Linked DNA regions of Homo sapiens: region 1 is linked to region 2. A link means that fine-mapping ties the variant in region 2 to the expression of a gene that starts in the linked region. Tissue or cell type: whole blood. Region 2 holds a variant in brackets; the other region holds the start of a gene. All regions are shown on one strand. Distances are from middle to middle.

Region 1 (8,101 bases), 230 kb after region 2:
AAACAGCAACTCTTTACTTTCCCCTCTTCATCGCCCCGTGGGAACCACCATTCTACTTTTTGTCTCTGTGAATTTGACTACTCTAGGTACCTTATATAAGTTCCTTCCTTTTAAGGCTGAATAATATTCCATTATATGTGTGGAATTCACCAATAAACCCATCTAGGCTGGGTGCTTTCTGTTTTGGAAGGTTACTAATTATTGATTCAATTTATTATTGTTATTTTATTTATTTATTTTTTTTTGAGACGGAGTCTCGCTCTGTCACCCAGGCTGGAGTACAGTAGCACAATCTCGACTCACTGCAAGCTCTGCCTCCCGGGCTCATGCCATTCTTCTGCCTCAGCCTCCCGAGTAACTGGGACTACAGGCATCTGCCACCACTCAATTTCTTTAATATATGTAGGCCTATTCAGATTGTCTGTTTCTTCTTGTGTGAGTTTTGGCAGTCTGTGTCTTTCAAGGAATTGATCAATCACATTTGTGGATATGAATATTCTTCTATTATCCTTTTAATGTCTGTGGGATCTGTAGCAATGTCTTCTCTTTCACTTCTGTATTAGTAATTTGTGTCTTCTGTTTAAGTTAGCCTGGCTAGCGGTGTATCGATTTTATTGATCTTTTCAAAGAACCGGCTTTTGGTTTTTTTGATTTTCTCTATTGATTTCCTGTTTTCAATTTCATTCTTTGCATGGCGTATCTAGTTTTCCTAGCACCATTTGTTGAAATGACTGTCCTTTTCCCCCATCGAATGGTCTTGGCATACTATCAAAAATTCCTTGACAGGCCCGGTGCAGTGGCTCACACCTGTAATCCCAGCAGGTTGGGAGGCAGAGGTGGGCAGATCACCTGAGGTCAGGAGTTTGAGACCAGCCTGGCTGACATGGCAAAACCTCGTCTCTGCTAAAAATACAAAAATGAGCCAGGCGTGGTGGCACATGCCTGTAATCCCAGTTACTTGGGAGGCTGAGGCACAAGGATCACTTGAACCCAGGAGGCGGAGGTTGCAGTAAGCTGAGATTGCACAATTGCACTCCAGCCTGGGCAACAGAGTGAGACTCAGTCTCAAAAAAAAAAAAAATTGCTTGACCATATAGGTAAGGGTTTATTTCTAGGCTAGGCTGGCTATTCTATTCCACTAGTCTCTTTGTCTTCATGTCCATACCATACTGTTTTGATTACTGTAGTTTTGTTAGACTAAGGTTTGAAATCAGGAAGTGTGAGACCTACAACTTTGTTCTTCTTAAATATTTTTTATGGGGTCCTTTGAGATTCCATATGAATTTTAGGATGGATTTTTCTATTTCTACAAAAAATGTTGTTGGGATTTTGATAGGGATTGCCTTAAACCTGTGGATTACTTTGAGTTGTATTGGCATCTTAATAATATTAAGCTTTCCAACCCATGAACACAGGATGTCTTTTCATTTGTTTGTACCTTTAATTTCTTTCAGCACTGTTTTGGAGTTTTCAGTGTACAAGTCTTTTGCCTCCTTGGTTAAATATTTTATTCTTTTTGATGCTACTGTAAATGGAATTGTTTTCTTAATTTCCTTTTTGAATTGTTTAGTATATAGACATGCAACTAATTTTTGCATGTTGGTTTTGTATCCTGCATCCTTGCTGAATTTATTAGCTGTGTGTGTGTGTTGTGTGTGTGTGTAATCTTTAGGGTTTTCTACATATGAAATCATGTCATCTTCAAACCAGAGGTAAGGTTACTTCTTCCTATCCATTGTAGATGCCTTTTATTTCTTTTTCTTGCCTCATTGTTCTGGCTAGGACTTCTAGGACTATGTTGAACAGAAGTGATGAAAGCAAGCACCCTTGCCTTGTTCCCGATCTTAGAGGAAAAACTTTATCTTTCGCCATTGAGTGTGATGTTAGCTGTGGGCTTCTCATATATGGCCTTTATCAGGTTGACATCACTTCCTTCCTTTTTTGTTTTTGAGACAGAGTCTTGCTCTGTCACCCAGGCTGGAGTGCAGTGGTGCAATCTCGGCTCACTGCAACCTCCGCCTCCCAGGTTCAAGCAATTTTCCTGCCTCAGCCACCCAAGTAGCTGGGATTACAGGCATGTGCCACCATACTTGGCTAATTTTTGCATTTTTTTAGTAGAGACAGGGTTTCGCCACATTGGCCAGGCTAGTCTCGAACTCCTGACCTCAGGTGATCCACCCGTCTCGGCCCCCCAAAGTGCCAGGATTACAGGCATGAGCCACTGTGCCTGGCCATTTCCTTCTGTTCCTAGTTTTAGGCACCACTCTTGCCTTTCCCTTTTTCGTTTGTCCTCAATCCAGATGGAGACCAGGTGCTCACCCTCCTTCATGCAGCAACACTTCCTGTACTTTAAGGTGGATGCCTGAAGGAGGGCAGCTTGAATTTTCTTCTTCAGAGAATTTGCCCACAGTTCTCTTCCTCTTTCCATTAATTTGTCCAGTCACAATGCAAACCTTTGTTGAGACTGCACTAGGCTTGGCATAGTGTTTGCCATCCACAGGTGGTTTCATGTATATTGTCTTAATCTTCCCAGAAGCTGTTTGAAATAGGAATTATTTCTGTCACCAGATTTAGAAGCAGAGGGGCTTGCCCAAGGCAGAGTCAGCTCCCATGACTCCCAGCACTGATGCATTCATGCCAGGCTGCCCTGTTTCTGCATCCAGCCCTTAAGCCGTGTTGCTGGCACTGTGCAAGTGCCTCCTGTCTCTGAAAGCTGCCTCTGATCCAAGTGGAAAGGGCCCAGGACCAATCGTGAAGTTCACTTTCTCTCTTTGTATTCATAGAGGTCCTGGGCCTATGTCAAGAAGTGCAAAAACAACATGTGTCCAAATCGGGGATTGGTGAGCCAGCTGCTGGAATGGGAGAAGACTATCCTTGGAGATTCCATCACAAACATCATGGATCCGCTCTACTGATCTTCTCCGAGGCCCACCGAAGGGTACTGAAGAGCCTCACCTGGGGGCATTTTGTGGGTGGAGGGCCAGAGTGTGTATACCCAGGCTTGTCTGGAAGGAGAAGGCCTTTGCTGCCTGAAAGTCTCATGTTAGCCTCCTGTACTGATTCTTCCCAAGTGCCTGTTCACGCCACCTAGCTGATGCGCCCTGCTCAGGTTCACCAAGAACCCGCATCCCTGAGGTGTCGCGGGCCATCCCAACTGCACCCCTGAGGCTGCCTCTGGAAGAGCATCTGGCTGCTAGAGCAGCTGCCCTGCATCCCCCTGGTGACTTAGACCCTTTGGAGGCTGCCTGGGGGTACCCAGAGGTTGCCTGTGTTGGTTCACAGAGGATGTCACAATAGCCACCAATAGGCAGTCCCCTAGTCCCAGAGATACCAAGCCCAGCCTTGTCTAGCCCCCAGGCTCCTAGAATGGGATCACACCCTTGCCTCATCCCCAGCGCTTCCTGCCATCCACCCCTTGAAACAGATTTTCTTTCCCTGCTCCCCACTCATTTCTGCCTGGCTGTGTTCACCAAGGAGAGATTCTCACCCCCTCCCCCATCTCCCTATCCACGTTTCTAGAAATTCCTAAGGTCTTAAAAGTTTTCCTTTTTTTTACCCCCTTTCCTTTTTTTTGGAGGCACGGTCTTGCTGTGTCTCTCAGGCTGGAGTGCAGTGGCGCAATCATGGCTCACTGCAGCCTCAACTTCCCTGGGCTCAAGCGATCCTCCCACCTCAACCTCCTGAGTGAGTAGCTGGGAATGCAGGCATGCACCATCACACCTGGCTAATTTATTTTTATTTTTGTAGAAACAGGGTCTTGCTCTGTTGCCTAGGCTGGTCTCGAACTTCTGGGCTCAAGTGATCCTCCAGCCTCGGCCTCCCCAAAATGCTGGGATTACAGGTGTGGGCCACGGCACCCAGTTGGAAGTTGTTTTCCAAATGCACTTCTCCAAAGCTGGCAGCACCCACAGAACAAACTGGGCATCAGGAGACGGCACAGACTAGGGGACTGGTAGGGGATTAGGATGTCCATCCATGCAGGACCTTCCCCAAGTCCATTCGGCAACCATTCCCTGCCACCGCGTGGGTGGGGCTGGGAACAGAGAGATGAATGCCGTCCCACCACTTAGCGCGCTCTGTGGAGGGATGGGGGTGGGAGGGGGTGGGGGATTCCCCTCAACAGAAGGGCAGGCCTTCAAGGAGGAGTGGGGTTTTGCCAGAGGGGGAACGGCTTTACACACAGCCCTGGCTTTCCTCAGGGTGTGAGTTGGGACAGAGCCCGGGATGGCTGCAGAGCTCCGATTAGGGACCTCCTGGTAGGCAGGACACAGCCGCTGGAAAGTTTTAAGCATGAACATGATGGGGAATCAGCCTTGTGTTTTGGGAAGGGCAGTCCGGTGGCCGCGAGAAGGGACAGTGGAGGTGAGGCAGGGAGAAAGGAGGCCGCTGTAAAAATCCAAGCGAGAGAAGCAGCTCTAACTCCCTTCCCCAAAGAGGCTCAGCTTCCCAAGGACGAAAATGTTGCAAGCAGGTGTCACCTCCCTGCACCTTGGTTTGCTCTCAGCATGACGGGCCAGAGCCCTGCTGGCTGCACCACGCGGCTGGCACAGTCAGTGCAGTCCAGGCCCGGGGGCTGCAGCCGTCCCAGTCCCGGTCCAGGCCGCGAGTCCCGGGGCTAGCAACCGCCCTTGCATACGGCCCCGCCCATACCCCGCCCCTGTCCCGGATTGGCTGGGGTGGGGGGCGTGGCCTTTCCCCATTGGTGCCCGTGGCGGCGCGAGCCCGGAAGCGGACGGGGGCGGTGGCGGAGGAGCCTCGGGTGGGCCGGGGTTGCTGCGCCGTCCTCCACTACTGGCTACTGGCGCTGCAGCCATGCAGCCCCCGCCCCCGGGCCCGCTGGGCGACTGCCTGCGGGACTGGGAGGATCTACAGCAGGACTTCCAGAACATCCAGGTTAGCGCCGCTGCGGACGCCGGGTCGCCCCCGAGCCGCGTCTCGCTGGCTCAGGGTCAAGGGTCGGGCAGCCCTGGGTCAGGCAGTGGGGAGCTAAGGGTCAGGGGTCGGGGCCCTGGCGTCACTGCCAAGGGGGGCGAGGCCCCTGGTCCTGGTGTCCACTGCCACCACCTCCAGTGTCCGGGAACCCCGGCGGGACCCCATCGCGCTGGGCGACCTCGGCTTCCAATGAGGGCCTTGGAAAGGGGCCCAGACCCCGACCCCGTCCCTTCCCAGAAGAGAGCGGCCGCCTGAGTCACACACGGGCGGGCCCAGCCTTGGGTCAGCCACTCAGCAAACGCGCAGCGGGCAGCGCCCGAGAGGCAGCCCAGGTCGGGGGAGCAGCGTTTAGGGGGGTGTCCTCGGCCTGGATGGGGGACGCCCCAGGCAGAGGGATACCGCGCGCCGCCGAGGCCTTTGGAAGGAAAGAGGGGACTTGACAGGCCCATGTGGCTGCATCAAGGAGAACCAGGGGAGGGGTGGGACGGGTGGGAGGGGTGGGCGGGGCTAGGCCCTGCAGGGACGCTCTGGCCTGGCAGAGATCAGAGTCCCTCCGAGGCCAGTGGAAAGCTACGGGAGGAATTGTCTGGACTGAGCTCCCCAGGGCCACCGTGGCTGTTCTGTCCAGAGGCCAGGGAGGAGGAGGCTGTTGGCCTCATCCAGGCAGGGAAGAGGGCGGTGGCTGTGGGTGGGCAGAAGTGGCACGTGCTGGGGTCCGAGGGGGCGTGGTGACCCCTCCTGGGCATGAGAAACAAGATCCAGACAGAGTAGAGCCCTGGCCAGCTGATGGCTTGGTTAGCCCTTGGCCTCTCCTGGACTGGTTCCAACTGCTTCCTGTGGGCATTGAAACCCAGCTGCCCCTGGCCCTGCCAAGGCCCCTGCCATTGGTGCTTCTCCCCAGAGACTGAGCAGACCCAGTCTCCCCGCCTGGCCGCCGCTGTCCTGGCCACAGCCCCTGCTTGGCTCTCCTCACACTGCCCCTTGCCCCATCTCTAGGCTGCGCCTTCTTGAGACTCACCTACCAGGGCAAAGTGCTTGGGGAATCCTTGGGCCAAAGGTGCTAGGGGAAGGGAGTGGGGCTGGCCTTAGAGCAGGAGGCTCTAGGGTTGAAACCTGATGACCTTTAACCTGGGAAGAAGATGTCAGGGATTCCTGAGAACCTGAGCTCCTCCTGTACTGGAAGGCTAGATAGGCAGGAGGAGCTGAGAGGATAGAGGGGTGGCTCTGGGCTGCCTGCTTGGTCCAGGAGGTGGCCCTGGGGGCCTAAGCTCCAGACTCAAGGTAGGAGAAAGAGTCTGTCCTTGTAGGGTGGGGACAACTAGCAGATGGGCTGAGACTAAGAAAACCTTGGCTGGGTGCGGTGGCTTATGCCTGTAATCCCAGCACTTTGGGAGGCCGAGGCAGGCAGATCACCTGAGGTCAGGAGTTCAAGACCAGCCTGGCCAACATGGTGAAACCCTGTCTCTACAAAAATACAAAAATTAGCCAGGCATGATGGCAGGTGCCTGTAATCCTAGCTACTTGGGAGGCTGAGGCAGAAGAATGGTTTGAACCCGGGAGGCGGAGGTTGGAGTGAGCTGAGATCCTGCCATTGCACTTCAGCCTGGGCAACAGAACAAGACTGTCTCAAAACAAAAACAAAAACAAAAACACCTAGTCTGTTTTTGGAGGAGGGGTGCTGTGGGGGTCTCTGGGCTCACAGGAGGACACCCAGGTCCTTGCCTGCCTTGGGGAGACAGCCACCTCATCCCTGGGCAGGCACAGTTCTACCTCCTTTCCCGCTGAGCGAAACCCTCCCAGCAGCCCTGGGGGAGCCTGAGCGCCACGTCCTGCCTGCAGGCTCTGGCTCAGTAGCTCCCCAACTGGCCTGAGCCTCTCCCCTCCGGCCCCCAGGAGACCCATCGGCTCTACCGCCTGAAGCTGGAGGAGCTGACCAAACTTCAGAACAATTGCACCAGCTCCATCACGCGGCAGAAGAAGCGGCTCCAGGAGCTGGCCCTCGCCCTGAAGAAGTTAGGATCCCCTACCCCACCCGCCATGGGCAGAGTGTGGGGTGGGAGGGCTGGCGCTGTGAGACCCTGGGCACCGCCCCTCCCCTCTCTGGGCCCTGTTTGCCCTTCTGCCCCTGTGGGAGTCAGGGAGGACACTTGGGAGTCCTCTTGCCCTGACTGTTTCTGGCCTTACCCGCAGATGCAAACCCTCCCTCCCAGCAGAGGCCGAGGGGGCCGCACAGGAGCTGGAGAACCAGATGAAAGAGCGCCAAGGCCTCTTCTTTGACATGGAGGCCTATTTGCCTAAGAAGAATGGGTGAGGGCCCCCACCGCCACCCCCAGCTCAGTTCACAGCCACTCCTGAAGCCGGGTGCTGCCTCCTCTTGGTCATTATAGTCAGCAAATGTTCCCTGGGCCCAGTACAGGCTGAGCAATGAGGCACAGTGCTGACTTCAGGGGAGACACCTGGCTGAGAGTGACATTTCACTGTGATAGGTGCTTTGTAGCATGGGGAATGAGGTGGCACAGTGAGGGACACCTGACCCAGTCCAGGAGGTCGCAGAAGGCTTCCTGGATTAGGGGATGGGTGGGCTGAGTCTTACAGAATAAAGAGTGGGCCGGGCGTGGTGGCTCTCACCTGTAATCTCAGCACTCTGGGAGATGGAGGTGGGAGGATCACTTGAACTCAGGAGTTCAAGACCAGCCTGGGTGACATACTGAGACCCTATGTCTCTATTTATTTAAAAAGAACAAATAGGCTGGGCGCGGTGGCTCATGCCTGTAATCCCAGCACTTTTTTGGGAAGCCAAGGCAGATCGCTTGAGGTCGGGAGTTCAAGACCCGCCTGGGCAACATGGTAAAACCCATCTCTACTAAAAATACAAAAATTAGCCGGGCATTGTGGCATGCACCTGTAATCCCAGCTACTTGGGAGGCTGAGACAGGAGAATCACTTGAACCCGGGAGGCGGAGGCTGCAGTGAGCTGAGATCGCACCACCGGACTGTAGCCTGGGCAACAGAGTGAGACTCTGTCTTAAAAAATAAATAAGTAAATAAATAAAAAAAATGAGGCAGACACATGGGCTGAGGGCGAGAGGTAGCAGCAGGTGGACGGGCCATGAGAACTTGTAGTGGCCAGAGGTCGGGGCGGGAGGTGAGAGGCAGCCAAGAGATCAGA
Region 2 (8,101 bases):
GTCTTTACCCTACCACTGATTGGCTGTGAGACCATGAACAAGTCCCTTCCCCTCTCTGCACCCTTGTTTCTCCCACTGAACAATGACTCAAAGACCCCAAGGGTCCTTTCCTACTCTGGAAGTCTGGGTAATACTAACTCTAAGTGTGTGGCACCAGGCTGGGTGTGGTGGCTTATGCCTGTAATCTCAGCACTTTGGGAGGCCGAAGCAGGTGGATCACCTGAGGCCAGGAGTTTGAGACCAGCTTGACCAACATGGTGAAATCCTGTCTCTACTAAAAATACAAAAATGAGCTGGGTGTGGTGGCACATGCCTGTAATCCCAGCTACTTGGGAGGCTGAGGCAGAAGAATTGCTTGAACTCAGGAGGCGGAGGTTGCAGTGAGCTGAGATCACACCGTTGTACTCCAGCCTGAGGAACAAGAGCAAAACTCCATCTCAAAAAATAAAATAAATAAATAAATAAATAAATAAATAAATAACACCAGACCTTCAGCCCACTTCCTTTCTGCTGATACAGCCAGGAGCCGGGGCCCCACCGGCCACCCTTAGAGTTCAACTGAGGCTGTCCCCAGCACTGGGTCAGCTCCCAAGGGCAAGCCCAGATGCTGGAGCCAGCCAAACCCATGTGTAGATTAAGTCATGAAGCCCTAGTTTAATGCTTGCCAAAGGGGCACACTCCTTCTTCTACAAGCCAGGAAGTGGTTAAAAGCCTAGAGGCCTGATTTCCCAGCCTCCTGGCTGGGTCCCTGGAGTTGCCTCCCTCCCACAAGCCCAAGCCTGGGTTTCCTGAGCAAGCCTGGGTGTGGACACAGTGGGCCACAAACTGGATGCTGCTACCTGCAAGTGATTAATTGAAGGTGAAACAGCTCATCTGTACTGCAGGGTCCAGCCTGTTTCGGAAAGTCAGCTGCTGACAGGCACAGAGGCCTCTTAGCTAATGAGGTCAGCACTCACCCTGGGGCTCAGAGGGAGAAGATGCTCAGATCGTAGTGACCTGGTCAGGTCTGGGGGAGAGGGAATGGGCTGTAGTGAGAAGTGGACCACAGATGAGTCTGGGAAGAGGCCCAGCCCTGCCCTGGGGACCCCTGATTTGAGAGGGAGACAGGAGAGTGATCTTTGGGAATTCATAAGCTGAGAGACCTAGGGCACGTGACTTCAACTCTCTGGGTCTCAGTTTCCTTGCCTGTAAAATGAAACTATTTAATAATAGCATCTTCCTCATAGGTTTGTTGTAAAGGACTAATGCATGGGAAATGCCCTCACAGTACCTAGTATGCAATGAATGTCTCGTAAAAGGCACTGGAGATTAATTATTATTATTATTATTGTAGAGACAGGGTCTCACGTTGTTGCCCAGGCTGGTCTCAAACTCTTGGCCTCAAGTGATCCCCCGCCTTGGCTTCCCAGAGCACTGGGATTACAGGAGTGAGCAAACTCCTCCCTGCTCCCCTTGTCTCTGGCAGCGTCGCAGTCCTCCAGCACCACGGACAGCACCCCCATCACCAGTTCAGGGGGCCCCATTTGCTGCCGGGGCTGAGAAGCCTCTTTTGCCGGGGAAAGGGGCGGGGGGGGCGGGGAGGGGGGCAGCACCGTTCCTCTAGGGGCTTTTTTTTCCTGGCCTTGCCAGCCAGAGGCATGCCTCCCCAGAGGTAATGTCAGGACTCAGAGCCTCCACACGCTCAAAGGTACAGATTCCCACAGCTTCAAGTAAGCACTTGAGCACTTCGTCTGTGGTCACACAATTTAACCACCTTCTTACTTCTAAGATCTTTCTGCTGTCTTCTACTGGGGCCAGGAAAAAGAGTGTTAGACCAGGACAAGGACTTGGAGTCAGAAGACTTTAGCTTAAATTCTGGCTCCACTACTTCTGCCTGGGTGATCAGGAAAAGTCATTAAACTTCTCCGAGCCTCAGTTTCCTCATCTGTAAAATGGAGTGTTGGGATTCGGTCAGGCTGGTGGAAAAAATATTAGTTATGATAGCCACAAAACCCTTTCGGAAGGCCTGAGGGTTTTCACATGACTTCGGTAATAGACCGGGGCGAAGGTGGGCTGGTCCCATTACCTTCAGTTAAATAGATTAGAGTAGTAAATAACGGGATGTGGGGAAGTTATCTAGTTAACTTGTTTACTCATGTGGTCTCAAGACGAGCCTTTGATGTGTGCTTTTTACTCGGGAAGTCCTCAATGTCAATTACCTCTAATGGCGCTGACTCAAGCTTTTGTTAACTAATCTTAATGAATAAATGTGAGTCTCCCTAGCTGATCGGGGCGGCCACAGTGACAAACCTCTCTTGGTGTGTAGGCGGTCACTCAGCAGGACTGGCAAAACAGAATCTCTGTGTATCAGTGTACGTTTTATTCATCATTTGGGTCAGGGTCTGTGGGCAGACCCTCGTAGCTAATACCCTCTTGTGAGGAGCAATACCTCGACGGAGACAATATTCCCTAGTCTTGTAGCTTGTAGCTTAGTGGGATCATTCATTCATCCTTTCTTGCGGTAACAGGCTTGTTATGAAGAGATTCTGATGCCATTCTCCCACCCACCCACCCAGTCCTGCAGGAGCAAAAAAGAGACCAGGGAGGCTCTACCTTTGCCTAGGATGGTCAGGGAAGGTTTCATGAAGAGAATGATGTTAGACATGTGCCTTTGAAAGATGTGTCTTTGGCCGGGCGCGGTGGCTCATGCCTGTAATCCTAGCATTTTGGGAGGCCAAGGTGGGCAGATTGCCTGAGCTCAGGAGTTTGAGACCAGCCTGGGCAACATGGTGAAACCCGGTCTCTACTAAAATACAAAAAATTAGCCAGGACTGGCAGTGTGCGCCTGTACTCCCAGCTACTCAGGAGGCTGTGGCAGGGGAATCGCTTGAACCCAGGAGCGGAGCTTGCAGTGAGCTGTGATCGTGTCACTGCACTCCATCCTGGGGGACAGACCAAGACTCTGTCTCAAAAAAAAAAAAAAAAAAAAAGAGGGAAGGGAAGAGAAGGGAGAGGGAGAGAGGGGAAGTGGGGGCAGGGGAGAGGGGAAGTGGGGGCAGGGGAGGGGGAATTGGGGGGAGGGGAGGGGATGCTCTGTCAAAAAAAAAAGAGGGAAGGGAAGAGAAGGGAGAGGGGGAGGGGGGCAAGTTGGGGGAGGGGAGGGAAGGGGTGGGGAGGGAAGGGAAGGGAAGGGAAGGGAAGGGAAGGGAAGGGAAGGGAAGGGAAGGGAAGGGAAGGGAAGGGAAGGCAAAAGCCAAGGGCATGTTAAGATCCAGGGACCCTTGGCTAAGAGGGCTACAGTGGAATGGAATTTATGATCCAGGAAACTGCATTCCTGTGAAGGTGGTGGCTGCAAACGCAGGATGAGACCTTCCAGAGAAAAAGCCCAGTGTGGTGACAGCAGGTGGGCAAGGATGTGCCTCCTGAGGAAAAAGATTCTTTCCAACTGTCAGAAACGAGACAGAACTGATAAATACCCATGAAACCAGGTCCTTAAGTTGTGAAACTCATTCTGGGTCTTGTTAAAAATAAGTGTGTGCAACAATCGTTTGTCAAGATACTTTATCAAGCTGGAAAAGAAAAGCCATCTGCATCATGTCCAAGGAATCTAGGTGTGTCCCCACTCCAAATCCTGGCATTGAAGCCAGGTGCAGCCATGACAGGGACATATTCCCTGGAGCACTCTCCTGCTGACCCTTCCCTTCCCTGTGTAAGGACCCTTCTGCAGACCTCCAGCCTTGAACACTTTATATTGAAAGCTTCCCCTGTGCTCACTGCCCAAGAGCGTGGGGCTGGGGGG[G/C]TAAGGACCAGAGGACCAAGAGACACCCCATCAACTTCAGGGTTGGGTCATTCATTCAGGTCACAGCTATTTGTGAGTGGCTACTCTGGGGTTCACCAGAGGACACGAGAGAAATGCAGAAGGAGAAGCACTGGTGCTTATCATGCTGGGGATGATGGATGCATGGCAGAGACATCTAACAGCTGGGGTGCGTCAGGAGAGGAGCATAGCTAGGAGGTCTCCCTGGAGGAGAGATCTTGAAGCATAAGTAGGAGTTGGCGGGACAAAGGAGGAGGAGAAGGATGTCCTGGTCAGGGTGTGGGGGTGAGCAGGAAGAAGGCATGGAGAGGAAAGAGGGAAAAGCATGGACTTGAAGCTGGGCGCGGTGGCTCAATCCTGTAATTCCAGCACTTTGGGAGGCTGAGCCAGGAGAATCATTGGAGGTCAGGAGTTCGAGACCAGCCTGGTCAGCCTGGCCTGTCTCCACTAAAAATACAAAAATTAGCCAGGCATGGTGGCGGGTGCCTGTAATCCCAGCTACTTGGGAGGCTGAGGCAGGAGGATTGCTTGAACCCAGGAGGCAGAGGTTTCAGTGAGTCAAGATCACGCCACTGCACTCCAGCCTGAGAGACAGAGGGAGACTCCATCTCAAAAAATTAAAAAAATTAAAAAAACAAAACAAAACATGGGCTTGTCTTGCTGAGCCCACTAAGCCAGGAGGGGAGGGAGGGCCAGGTCCCCAGGGCCTTCAGACTCAGGCTGAGGACCTAGGACCACACCCTGCAGGCAATAGGGAGCCAGTGAAGGGTATTGAGCTGGGGAGGTCAGATTTGCATTTTGGAAAGATCTCTCTTGCAACTTTTTTTTTTTTTTTTTTTTGAGACGGGGTCTCCTATCACCCAGGCTGGAGTGTAGTGGTACAATTATGGCTCACTGCAGCCTCTACCTCTTGGGCTCAAGTGATCCTCCCACCTCAGCCTCCCAAGTAGCTGGCCACTACTACACACAGGTGCATACAACCATGTCCAGCTAGTTTTTAGAAGTTTTGTAGAGACAGGGTCTCACTAGTTTGTCTCTAACTCCTGGACTCAAGCAACCCTCCTGCCTTGGCCTCCCAAAGCTCTGGGATTGCAGGTGTGAGCCACTGTGCTCAACTCTCTCTTGCAACCTGATGCCCTCAGGCCCTTAAAGGATAACTGATAACCCAGTCCACATGAACCAAGACAGACCCGTGCCGATCAGCCAGTAGCAGATGGGTTCAAATCACTTACTATGTGTGCGTAGTGACTTAACCTCTTTCTTATCTGTAAAATGGGGTTAATATAAGTACCCGCACCTCAGGGTAAGGAGTAAAGGAATAACGTGTGTACAGTGCCTGGGTAGGCGATAAGCTCTATGCATTAAGTGTTAGCTGTTATCAGCCATGAACTATGCCAATCAGTCTAAACCATTACAGGCATGAGTTAGACCAGGAGGAAATATAGATCCATATAAATCAGAACAGATCAGGTCAATAATTACCATTTTAAATCATTACAAACACTCATAGCCCAATCATGGTACTTTTCACAGATACAAACCCACACAGACCAGTAGAGACCAGTAGAGACGGGTAAGAAGAGGGCAGGTGCGGGGCGCGGTGGCTCACGCCTGTAATCCCAGCACTTTGGGGGGCCGAGGCGGGTGGATCACAAGGTCAGGAAATCGAGACCATTCTGGCTAATACGGTGAAACCCCGTCTCTACTAAAAATATGAAAAATTAGCTGGGCGTGGTGGTGGGCGCCTGTAGTCCCAGCTAGTAGGGAGGCTGAGGCAGGAGAATGGTGTGAACCTGGGAGGCAGAGCTTGCAGTGAGCTGAGATCATGCCACTGCACTCCAGCCTGGGCGACAGAGCGAGACTCCGTCTCAAAAAAAAAAAAAAAAAAAAAGAGGAGGGCAGGCCCAGTGGCTCAAACCTGTAATCCCAGCAATTTGGGAGGCTGAGGCGGGTGGATCACCTGAGGTCAGGAGTTCGAGACCAGCCTGGCCAACATGGCAAAACTCTTTTACTAAAAATACAAAAATTAACTGGGTGTGGTGGCGGGCACCTGTGAACCCAGCTACTTGGGAGGCTGAGGCAGGAGAATCGCTTGTACCCAGGAGGCGGAGGTTGCGGTGAACTGAGATTGCGCCACTGCACTCCAGCCTGGGCAACAAAGTGAGACCTTGTCTGGAAAAAAAAAAAAAAAAAAGACGGGTAAGAAGACACTGCAGGGAGAGGCCTGGGAGGAGGTGGCTCAGGGAGCGGGCAGAGCCCAGTGAGCTTCCTCCATGACTCCTTGGAGTCTCTCTGGAGAGGCGCTGGTGCTGGCACGGCTGTTTGTTACCCAACCCTCCAGAAGACGCGGTGGGGGGAGGGGAACTGCTGAAAGCCTTGCTTTCAATAATTCAGCAGCTGGAGCTTCCTGCTGCCCCTGCTGGAGCTGGAGGAAAATCTTGGCCAGAGCCCCAAGGCTGGGGCTGGCTGGGGGTGGGAGGGCTGGTTCCTGGAGGGGCAGGCAGCCTGGCTTGCAAGGGTGCGGGCACTGCAGCTCTGTGTTTTGACCATAGCCCTTGTGGTCCCTCTTCTGCCCTCCCCTTTTCAGTCTAGGGCTGGGTCCAGCCATGCCTGGGCAGGACTCGGGCTGACCCTTTCCCTGCCGTCTCAGTCTGTGCTGGGCAATGGAGGTGGCTGGGCTGGCAAAGTTTCCAGGGCCAAGATGGGGTGTCCGGGGCCGGTGAGGCAGAGAGGGCGAGCCTGCAGACCACAGGAGAAAGCCCTGGTGGCTTAGCTGGCAATGTGCCCAGTCCTACGCTATCCCTGTCCAGCTCCACACCACATTCCACTCCACCCAAGAATGCACTGACCCATGCTGTTCCTCATGCCTGGAAGGTTCTTCCTCATCTACCCTTCCTGCAAGACTGCTCAAGCATCACCTCCTCCGTGAAGCCTTCCCTGACTGCCTGGAAGGACTCCCTGGGGGACGTGCCTCTGCTGTCACCCTGTGGCTACTACTCGCAATCTAGCATGACTGTTGCTCCTTGGCTGACTGAGGGCTGTCCAAGGGCAGAGACTGGGCCAATCCACATCTGTATCCCTAGTGCTCAGCACAGGGCTTGGCACAGAGCAGCCACCTGGGACTGTTTGCTGAGACCCCGCCTGTGTTTGCACCGATGGGAGCTCACTACTTATTGTTTTACCACCATCATCTCTGGGAACTACAGAGGGAGAGGTCCTTGGTCACTGCTCTCACTATGCCTAGACTATGTGCATGCTGACATTTGCATGGGCCTCATGGTCATCTACTTTGTAAGCCCTCGAGTCCAGCCTTGTCTTTGTTTGTTTGTTTGTTTGTTTTTGAGACAGTATCTCGCTGTGTTGTCCAGGCTGGAGTGCAGTGGTGTGATCTCGGCTCACTGCAACCTCCACCTCCTGGGTTCCAGCCATTCTCATGCCTTAGCCACCCAAGTAGCTGGGATTACAGGCGTGTGCCACCATGCCTGGCTAATTTTTTGTACTTTTAGTAGAGACGGGGTTTCACTATGTTGGCCAGGCTGGTCTCAAACTCCTGACCTCAAGTGATCCACCCACCTTGGCTTCCCAGAGTGCTGAGATGACAGGTGTGAGCCACCGCACCCGGCCCCAGCCCTGTCTTTGAATAGATAGGAAGGACTTCTCTGGTCAAGGCTCCTGTCTTTGTTGGCTCTGATTTGGGTTCCTGGAGCAAAGATTTGGGTGGCAACCAAGCAGGCTGCCCAGGGCATCCCCTCAGGCTTCTGCTGGGCTGGCTGAGATCAAAGAGAAAGCCGGCTGGGGGCTGGAGCATCACTGACAAGGGACAAGGAGGGACAAGGAGGCCTCCACTGTCTGCTGCCTCCAGAGGAGTCCACAGTACAGGTAATGCAGCCCAGGTGAGAACAGGTAACAATGCTCAGGTGAGATCAGTGCAGATTGATGTAGCCCAGGACAGGTCATACAGAGCCTTGTAAATGGGACAGACCCAGCCAAGCCAGGAGCTCAGACCGACTGATCAACAGAGGACAGTGGGGACACTGCACACCAGCATGACAGACAGCTGGAAGGTATCAGAACAAGCAACACTGGCTACTGAAAGCAATACAGGCCGGGTATGGTGGCTCACGCCTGTAATCCCAACACTTTGGGAGGCTGAGGCAGGTGGATCACTTGAGGCCAGGAGTTCAAGACCAGCCTAGCCAACATGGCCATCTCTACTAAAAATACAAAAATTAGCCAGGCATGGTGGCTGGTGCCTGTAATCCCAGCTACTTGGGAGGCTGAGGCAGGAGAATTGCTTGAACCTGG

The links. PIP is the estimated chance that this variant, and not a neighbour inherited with it, causes the effect.
Region 1: TMEM120A starts here. The variant in region 2 is fine-mapped to the expression of TMEM120A in whole blood (TOPMed, PIP 0.94).

What each region holds. Positions count from the first base shown.
Region 1 is chr7:75,991,282-75,999,382 of GRCh38, reverse strand. It overlaps TMEM120A (transmembrane protein 120A), which reads left to right and starts at 4,788. Exons shown (of 12, transcript NM_031925.3): 1 at 4,788-4,893; 2 at 6,826-6,944; 3 at 7,123-7,239. The coding sequence starts at 4,813. STYXL1 (serine/threonine/tyrosine interacting like 1) reads left to right here. Exons shown (of 9, transcript NM_001317785.2): 9 at 2,784-3,041. The coding sequence ends at 2,915. RefSeq lists silencers at 4,547-4,996, 5,007-5,066, 8,058-8,101 and an enhancer at 7,248-7,307.
Region 2 is chr7:76,218,946-76,227,046 of GRCh38, reverse strand. The region is part of intron 1 of SRRM3 (serine/arginine repetitive matrix 3); the gene reads right to left. Among named protein-coding and RNA genes, the nearest start is that of SRRM3, 21 kb to the right of the region's middle. RefSeq lists a silencer at 1,369-1,569 and enhancers at 1,914-2,418, 3,757-4,257. The variant G/C (reference allele first, on the strand shown) is at 3,779.